3 separate regions of the Homo sapiens genome follow, and regions 2 and 3 are each reported to be linked to region 1. Evidence: microRNA targets listed by miRTarBase, many of them from high-throughput screens and not tested one by one. Region 1 holds a microRNA gene; each other region holds the end of a gene's coding sequence.
What was found. Region 1 holds the annotated microRNA hsa-miR-5693 (GCAGUGGCUCUGAAAUGAACUC, at 833-854, shown strand). A microRNA usually pairs through its seed, bases 2 to 8, with sites in the 3' UTR of a target mRNA and lowers its output. Matches are read on the target gene's strand: a 7mer-m8 pairs with bases 2 to 8, a 7mer-A1 pairs with bases 2 to 7 and ends in A, and an 8mer does both.

Region 2: miRTarBase lists SLC16A10 as a target of hsa-miR-5693. Seed matches in the 3' UTR shown: 7mer-m8 at 828-834.
Region 3: the mRNA of ZNF410 is a reported target of hsa-miR-5693. Seed matches in the 3' UTR shown: 7mer-m8 at 1,922-1,928.

The regions. Positions count from the first base shown.
Region 1 is chr13:51,346,273-51,349,429 of GRCh38, reverse strand. MIR5693 (microRNA 5693) reads left to right here and starts at 791; the gene lies at 791-863. It overlaps SERPINE3 (serpin family E member 3), which reads right to left. Exons shown (of 10, transcript NM_001386375.1): 5 at 2,196-2,405; 6 at 1,019-1,217. It also overlaps a transcript of INTS6 not described here.
Region 2 is chr6:111,221,869-111,225,025 of GRCh38, reverse strand. SLC16A10 (solute carrier family 16 member 10) reads right to left here. Exons shown (of 6, transcript NM_018593.5): 6 at 1-3,023. The coding sequence ends at 2,791. Among named protein-coding and RNA genes, the nearest start is that of SLC60A2-DT, 36 kb to the left of the region's middle.
Region 3 is chr14:73,930,829-73,933,985 of GRCh38, reverse strand. It overlaps ZNF410 (zinc finger protein 410), which reads right to left. Exons shown (of 12, transcript NM_021188.3): 12 at 1,465-2,483. The coding sequence ends at 2,445. FAM161B (FAM161 centrosomal protein B) reads left to right here. Exons shown (of 9, transcript NM_152445.3): 9 at 1-1,710. Among named protein-coding and RNA genes, the nearest start is that of FAM161B, 18 kb to the left of the region's middle.

The DNA of each region.
Region 1 (3,157 bases):
TTTGGGTTTTGGTTTGGGGTCCAAATATTTAGTTTTGAGAGATACACTTTACCTTAGAGTTAAGTGCACCTTTTGCCCTGGGTTATGCCAGATCTCACTTTAGACCTTGGCCCTTAACTTACTGGGTCTCTCTTTGTATTTTTTCCTTCTAGTGCATAGATTTACTTTTAACTCCTCAAGGGAGTACTGCCAAGGACTTTGCCTTTGCCTACTGGAAGCCCAGGCAGTGGAGAGAGGCCAAGGCATCTAGTGGCTACTGGACAACATTCCTTGCTTAATGCTGGTCAAAAAATGGTTATAAATTTACTCTGATTTCAAATACATCACAGAAGCTCATCATTTAAAGAAGCCCTAAGAGGAGTCTTTTTGTAAAGTTATGAGTTTTGCTAATAGATTTTGTTTTGAAAAAGCAACATAGAATGCCACCACTTCACTTTTTGATTTGTATTTGTACCTATTGGGTCTTCTTAAAGGAGAGTTCACCTCCATTTAGAAAGAATGAGAACCTTCTGCACAGAGACTTAAAGTGTCAAAATTTTATGCCTTAATTTGGCGTCTGATCAGAATTTTATCTGTACTTGCTCAATTACGTAAGTCATCTTATCTCTTTGGTTTTGGAAAAATGACAGTTGTATACTCTTAGGATGGGATAAGATTTGGGCAACGTTCCTACAAGGGAACCACGAGCATTTCCTTTCCAAAAACTGGTCCAGCCTAGGGCTGGATCAGGGGGTCCTGGGGGGCTCCATTCCAGCCCAGTGAAGGCAGAATATCTTGTCTTGGAAAGACTCTGGGAAGTTAGTTCATTTCAGTCTGTGCTGTGAGCTAGCCAGCAGTGGCTCTGAAATGAACTCAAACTCTAGGGTCACTTCCTCTTGGTCTAACTTCTGGGGATACATATTAAACAAGTCATCCCAGTGGCTAAGCACAGACCCTGGAGGCAGACCACCTGTGTGCAAATCCACGCTCTTCTGACTGCTGGCTGCACAGCACCTGTGAGGGGGACTCAGCTGCTCACCTGGGCAGGAACACATCCATCCTGGCTCTCCTCAGGCTGGTGGTCCAGAGGTGGATGGTGCTGGCTGTGAGGTGTGGCTCGATGTGGCTCAGGGGGGTGTCTTTGTCACGGGGCAGCACCAGGAACAGACTCACTGCACTTCCCAGGTAAGGAAGCTCCAGCACCCCCACCTGATGGCCTGCAGTGTCCTGGAACTGACCTGAGGGTACAGTGGATCAGAGGTCAGCTCTGTCCCAGGAGCCAGGAGAATGAACCAGTGTCGGACCCTGAGAGAGGCTGGCTCAGAGGACTGGAAACAATAAAACCGAGCATCCACCTCACCCTCAGGAGGCGGTTTCAGGCCAAAGACTGTTGGGCGATATGGTCATTTTATAAAAATCCTAGACCTAGAGTCTTTAAGATACCCTCACAGGACCAGAGTTAGAGGTTCTCTAGGACTGGGTATGGGGGGGGGGACGATGGCACATGCAGAACCACATAGAGTAGTGCCCCCTTATCCTTGGCAGATATGCTCCAAGAACCCCAGTAGAGGCCTGAACCTGTGGATGGTAACGAGCCCTGCATATACTATGTTTTCTCGATCTGATGACTGAGATGGCTACTAAGTGACCAACGGGCATACTGTAGACAGCCTGGGGATGCTGGACAAAGGGATGGTTCATATCTCAGGTGGAACAGAGAAGGACGTCAGGAAATTTCACCACACTATTCAGAAGGGCGTGCAGTTTAAAACTTGAGAATTATTTGTGAAATTTTCCATTTAATATTTTCTGATGCGGATAACTGAAACCTCAAAAAAGCAAAATCATGGATAAGGGTACAGGGTACTACTGTACCCGATCTTAAAGGAGCAGCCATTCAATCCCGGCCTATTGTGCCTGCCAGGGTGGCAGTTTGGTCCAAACTCTACTAGTGCAGAAGGAAATGTCAGGCATGAAACTGAGTTTCTCTTCCACATCTGTGTCCTCACTGTCCTGTCAGAGCACACTGTCCCACACTCCTCTCTAAAGTCTCCGGGCACCTTAGTCTTTCCTTCCGCCATGCATGCCCAGTCCAGCAGATGGACCCTGCGGAAACACATCCCGATCCCTTAGGAGCAGGGACCTGGCCTCCTCTCTCCTGCCCTCAGGCCCAGGCTTCCTCTCCCTTTAGACAAACCAGCAGGGGCAGAGCTCACCGTAGTTGACCTCGGTCGTTTGGTGCATCATGGGGACCTGAAGGACGAGGCCATAGGCACAGGTGAAAGGCAGGATCTGTGTGTCTGTGGAGGAGAATCTCTTTCGCCAAGTGCCTTGGAAGGACATGGTGCTCACAAGCACAAGCTGAGCAAATGCTGCACTGACTTGCTCCCACGGCCAGCCACCAGGGCCCTCACTGGGGCCCCCACCTGCAAGCAGGAAAGCAAGGTGGCCATGGGTTAAATGTGCATTGAAACTGAACCGAACCCAGTGTGTGTGCGGACAAGGAGTGCAGAGTTAAAATGCGAAAATGCAGGTCTTTTTGCTTAAGGTGGTCTCTCTCTTCATCTTACAATATCTTTTTAGTCTACTTAAGAATATTTAATTCCCTGTCTCAGCTCCTTGTGCTGTCAGGGACCCAAGGCACCAGGAGCTGCTCTCAACTTTTGGGGACTGTTGAGCGATATGGTCATTTTATAAAAATCCTAGACCTAGAGTCTTTAAGATAACCTCACAGGGCCAGAGTCAGAGGCTCTGTAGGGCTGGGTATGGGGGCGACAATGACAACCCCTGCTGGGGGATGAGGGTGTGGAGAGGGAAATGGAAAGTGAGAACTCAGAAGTCCTGACACCTGGGTGACCAGTCAGGGGAGGTGGGGGCAGTGAGTCATCTCTGGAGTTGGGTTGGTAGAGTATTTATTAAAATATGTTCATTGCAAATTGATATGTGTTTATAACCAGCTGTTGCTGAAGACCCTGCTTTTTATTCTTTTCTGAACAGGTTGGGATGCTGCTCCTGGTTCTGTTTGGGGCCATTTCCTAGGAATTATTAGACATTCCCTCCCCAGGCAGACCCTTGGAAGGAGTATGTGCTGTGATGGGAGATCCTGCACATTGTCGCCCCCAGTCCCCACCCTGCCCCGCTGCTGAGCTGAATCTCTCACTGAGCCTTTGCTTAGAAA
Region 2 (3,157 bases), not on the chromosome of region 1:
AGTATCTATAAAAAGGAATGTTACTCCCTTTCATGCTTTTTTTGGCCTCAAATGCCAGAACCTTTCGAATTTGAGAATTTTCTGAGTCTTATCAAAAACAGGATGAGGAGATAAAAACAGAGTTCTGACTCTGTATTCTTTTCAGACTCTCAGAAAAGTGTCTGGATTGAACACAAAAAATTTAGGCTTATCAGGTCACTTTATTGCAGCAGTAACACTTCATTCAGAAATTAGAAAGGATTTAGTTTGACTAGATTAAAGCACAAATTTTTATATTAGTATTTTTCATTTTCTTTGTGCATTTTAAACTTTTAGAACTTTTCCCACAAAAAACATAGTACTAAATATGCATTTATGGAATTTAGCATCTTACGTTTATACTTTTTCTTCTTAATTTTATATTATTATAGCAGAGTATTCTCCGTATGAGTCTATTACAATAGAACTTTTTCAGTGTTATAGATCCAGTTTGATTCATTCCATTAAACTGAAAACTACATATGTGAAGTTTAATATACAAACACATATGCTGAGATCTAAGTTATATATACTTGTCACTGCTGTTTTAATATGGAAACTAACCAAGCAATTTCTTTTAGTTTCAGATGATCACTTTTTTCCTAAAATCAGCCAAATTTTGAAAAGAAAAACACTGTAGAGGTCTTTACAGAGTAAAGTTTTCATTTTTAAATTACTTTCTGTAAAATTGGGGAGAAGGTGTTTTGAGGGGAGTCTGTGCTAAAACTTAAAACAAAATTTAACATTTATTTTTTGTTTTTGATTTTCTTTTACAGACAGGGTTCTGCTCAGTTGAACAGGCTAGAGTACAGTGGCATAGCTCACTGCAGCCTCCATCTCAAGGCTCAAGCAATCCTTCCACTACCTCAGCCTCTGAGTAGCTGGGGCTACAGGTGGGCACCATCATGCCTGGCTAATTTTTAAATTTTTTGTAGACACAGGGTCTCATTATGTTACCCAAGCTGGTCTTGAACTTCTGGGCTCAAGTGATCCCCCTGCCTTGGACTACCAAAGTGCTAGGATTACAGGCATGAGCCACTATGCTTGGCCTAATTTTTTTTTTTATTTTTAGTAGAGACAGGATCTTGCTATGTTGCCCAGGCTGGTCTCAAACTCCTGGGCTCAAGCAATCTTCCCTCCTCAGCCTCCCAAAGTGCTGGGATTATAGGCGCAAGCCACCTTACCCAGCCAAAATTAACATTTATAATAGTGGGTTTGATGATTGGTCTTAGTAGTATGTTTTGTTGAACTTCTCAAAAATGAGAAAGTAACGTTTTATATAACTGGACATGACTGAATGAAATCATTTTCTAAAAGCTTATAATAAGGACATGAAAGGGTAGTATGGTCAAAATGTAGATTTTTTTTCCTGCAAAAGAACCATCCACAGGCAAATTATCTAAGTCCCCTGAATATGAAATATGACACTATTAGAAGTGGTAAGGTGCAACTGCATGTATGACAAAGTAAGTTGCTGAATGTCTTCACAATCAAAAGCACTAACTTTTAAAGGCCTCAAGTACTAAAGCATAATTTTAGGGATAGAGGAAAGTGTTCTTGTTTTTGTAAATGAGTATGGGTCATGGCATGACTTTGGTTTTATTTTGGGTCCTCAAACTGAGAGCTTTCTTATGATAATCTGTATATAAATAGCAAAAAAAAACAATGGGAATGTTCATAGGATAAATAATATGAGTGCAAATTTTTGCCAGAAAGTTCTGGAAATGTAGGACTTGGTTCTTTTTATAAGTGCTTTTAACCTTTTCAGACTCATTAATTTCATAAACCAATTTAAGCAATTATTTCTATCAGCTACAGATATTTTCTTCACAAATATAAAGGGTTTTGCTCCCCTCCCCATCCTCCAGCCTCCACCAATTTGTGCCTGTAACTGCCACTTGATAGCTGCTCAGTAAGACTTTAAATATCAGGTTCTAGTGCCAACAAATCCAGAAGTCAGAAAAATTCTAAGTTACAATCGCCAGAATATCTTTCATGCATTCTATTTTACTTTATTGTTACAGTTTAAACAAATTCAGAAACGTGGGGTGTTTCTGGCTACTTGAGTAAAACGCACTGCAAACGCAAAGGGAACAACGCTGTAAACTTAAATGATTTCTGAACAGCTCAGGATCCTCCTGGAGGGGATCCTTTTCATCTCACATATTGATTCTGAACACTATGTTAGCACCTGCTCCCAGAAGGTCCCTTGACACTGGAGCAAGTCAGAATATCTTAATATCATAGCTTATTTAACAGCAGGAAAGCAACTTTAACATAGACTTGAGGTTTAGGTAGATCTGGTATTATCTAGAACCCAGGCTTAAATTTTGCAAAAAGTTTCCAAAGAGCATAAGAAAGTAAAACAGAGGTACCAGAACTGAAGACATCATTAACAAACAAAATATTTCCACTCCTAACCAAACTGCAACCCTTTCAGTATAGCCTGAGGTATTTTTAAACATTTGTACAAGCTAAAGATCATTCACAGTTTCCAAAGCTGCTTTTTACTGAGATAGCTTCAAATTTTCACAATATGTGACTTTCAGACGTTTTCATATACCAGAGTCTCTGCCCTCAGACTCATGGAAACATCAGAGATATTTAGTGGCAGAAAATGGTTCTTCTAGTGATAAGGGTTCTATTTCCCAATTATTGTGCTATTCCTAGGATGTGATTAAAAAAATATGAAATTTGCAATTTGTATAAAAGGAAAGGAAACTTGCTTAAAATTCAAAAAGCAAGTCCAGTCTGGTGGAGGTATGTAAGATATTAAATAATAGAGTCAGATTCTTTCTTGAACATTCCAGATGAACTTGACAGCAGAGAGTTCTGGTTTTCCAACATTTTCTCCATCTTTTCTTTTCCAGTGGTTTTACTGATCTCTCTTTGCTTCTTACTATGGATCCACGGGATAAAACAAAGCACAGCACCTCCAATAAGGGGAGGGACTCCAGCGAGGTAGAATGCCACATCATAGGAGCCCAGTTTGTCACGAAGTAACCCTGAGAAGGGAAAAAGCTGTCACCAAGGGAGAACAAGTGTGGCTCTGTAGGGGGTCTAGATCAGCCACAGGACTGATTCAGACATCTCAGACATCAGACTTTTTTTTTTTTTTAGGAAACAGATCTGAAATATA
Region 3 (3,157 bases), not on the chromosome of region 1:
GCTGGGCGTGATGACACGTGCCTGTAATCCTAGCTACTTGGGAAGCTGAGGCAGGAGAATCACTTGAACCCAAGAGGCAGAGGTTGTAATGAGCTGAGATCACTCCACAGCACTCCAGCCTGGGCAGCAGAGCAAAACTCTGTCTGAGAAAAAAAAAGAGCAGCAGATAACAGAGAATAGTTCAAGGAAATCAAAGTGGGGAGGCTCAGGTGGAGGGATGGTAGCCTAAAGTTAAGGGTTCCTGCTTTGTGCCTCACACTTAGAGAATTAGGTACAGAAAAGAGAGCACAGGCCCAAATGCCTATAAGGGGCTAGTGCAGAAACATAAATGCGTCCATGGAGTGGGTGTAGACAGTAGGAGATAGTAGACACTGGAAAGTATCAAATCCTGCTGGAATATAGGCTCAGAGTTACTACATCAACTACATTTTCATCAAGCCAGAAATTTGTATGCTATCAACTAATTTAAAAATTACTTAGAAATATTGTATGGGCAAAATAAAATACATCTGCATATCAGATCTAGCCCATGGGGGATGAAAAACTTACAACTTCTAGTACAGGATTTCTTATCCTCAGTGCTATTAATATTTTGGGCCACCTAATTCTTTGTTGAGGGTTGGGGAAGGGAACTGTCCTGTACATTGTAGAATGTTTAGTAGCATCCCTGGCCACTACCTGCTAGATGCCAGTAGTACCCCTCTCCCCAGCTGTGACAACCAAAAATGTCTCCAGATATTGCATATCCCCAGGGGGCAAAAATGTGCCTGGCTGAGAACCACTGCTCTAATATAAATGGCTGCATGAAGCAAAAACTGGCATTCTAAGAATACAAGTAATTGCCATGAACACAGTCTATGTACTATGTGATTATGCATGTCATTAACAAATTAAGAATTTAAAACAATTCTCTCCCGTTATCTGTTTAGAATGTGCCTGTGTGTTTATGTGAGCATGAGGTTCATTTTAAGTAAACTTAAAATTTCCCAGACAACCAAGATTTTCTACTAGTAGGTGAACTTTGGAATAATTTTCTTCTCACCAATAATAATTGGATATTCTGGCTCGGTGCAGTGGTTCATGCTTGTAATCCCAGCACTTTGAGGGGCCAAGGCAGGAGGATCGCTTGAAGCCAGGCGTTCAAGACCAGCCTGGGCAACACAGACCTCATTTCTACCAAAAAAACCACAAAAAGTTAGCTGGACTGGTGGTACATGCCTATAGTCCTAGCTATTCAGGAGGCTGAGGTGGGAGGATGCCTTGAGCGTAGGAGTTCAAGGTTACATTGAGCTATGATTACACTACTGCACTCCAGCCTGGGTGACAGAGCAAGACCCCATCTCAAATCATAATGATGATGAGTGGATATTTTCTCAGTAGCTGTGGAGACAGGATGACTGATAGCAAGAGTGCCTGCTCTAACTAAAGCACCTTTCTCAAGCTTTTTTAAAAAAACTATCTTTGTGGAAAAATTCAGAAGTATCTGTTTTTATTGCCATTTTCTCAGATGCGTCTTTTTTGGTGGTGACAGAGTAACTATCACCTGGGCTTAAGAAATGAAGATGTTCTTGTTGTTTCCTAAGACTCCTCGGTTCAGTTTTACTGGTATGGAATCCTAAGGGTAAATCAATACACTATTTTAAAGGGAAAGATTAAATTCTTAATCTCTAAGAAAACAAATTTTGTATAAAACAAGAGCCAAAGAACTGACTGGGCTGTTTTGTTTATTTAAAGGAAAACCTGAATCTCTGCATCATGTAATTTTTAACTTTAAAAAAACAAAAACATGAAATCCCTCTTAACATGCTACTGTATGTTCCATTAACGAAGAAAGCAAAGTGACCAAGTAGAAGTGTATAGGACAAGATAGTACCTCAGCCTGGGCCAAGGGGAGATTCAAGTAATTTATTTTTTTGCAGCCCAGTGGCAGAGAGTCTCTTACTCAGGTTGCTAAAGGGAGAATGTAACAAGAGAATTGACATCACTCCCTTCTTCAAAGCAACAAGGCATCTTGAAAACTCAACTTCCTGGTGAAGCTCTGTTGTTGGTAGCAGGAATTATTTCATCCATGTGAAAAGACAGCTGAGTCTGGGATGAAAACTCTTCAAAGGAAAACCTCCCCTCAACAGTCAGAATGAAGAACTTCAGCCAACACATAATCAAATTCACTTTTGGTCTATCCCAGAAATTTGCAGTGGGAAGAGAGGTAGGTACAGTTTCCCAGCCCACAGTCATTGCTTCATTCCTTGTCTGATCAGATGGTAGTTAGAAAAGAAGCTCTCCTACATCCATCTTCTATACCAGGAAAGAGGAAGAGTGGCAAAAGCAGAGTCTTGTGCCTTCAAAGATTCATTCTGGTTCTGTTGTGGGCTAAGGCATCCTGTTCCCAGTATACGCATTTTGAGATCAGATAGAGTTGCTCTTCCAGGAGTCAGCACCCACGCTCATGTCCGTCTTTCAGTTAAATCTCCTTGGTTTAGTAACTGTAAAAGATTGAAAGCAAATCTAGAATAGGTTACAGTTGAATTATAGAAAAAATAATTCATAGTAAAAAGTATTAAGAGTGGAGGATGGAGAATGCACTACAGGGGTGAATGAAGGCTATCTACTTCCAAAGCAAACACATGCACGGACTGATAGATGTCACTGTGGCCTTGGGACAGCACTTTAGCCATGTCATAAGGCTGGCATTTTAACTCTGGCAATCAAATATTCTGAGTCTATAAGCCAAACTATTGTTTGTGTAGTTACCTACTCATCAGTCAGTGACAGAGGAATCTCTAACTTACAGGGAAAACAGAAATGGTGGAACCAAAATCTTATACGTGTCAGCCAAAGGATAGGCTGAAGGCTCAAGTAGGAGAAGGAAATAGGAAGAGGAGCTGTTCCTTTATAAGTACTATATGAGAGCTGAAACCCACTCATAAAAGATCTAGGGGTTCCTTGGGCTTAAAAGAATGATAAGCCTAAGGGACTCCTGCATAATGGCAACTACCACTAACATTCTACTCTATACACAAGGCTCTATTCAAAGGAGTTTTGAAATAATGAAATTGGCTTCCATTTTAATATAAAAACAAAATGAGGCTGGGTGCAGTGGCTCACATCTGTAATCCCAGCACTTTGGGAGGCTGAGGCAGGAGAACTGCTTGAGACC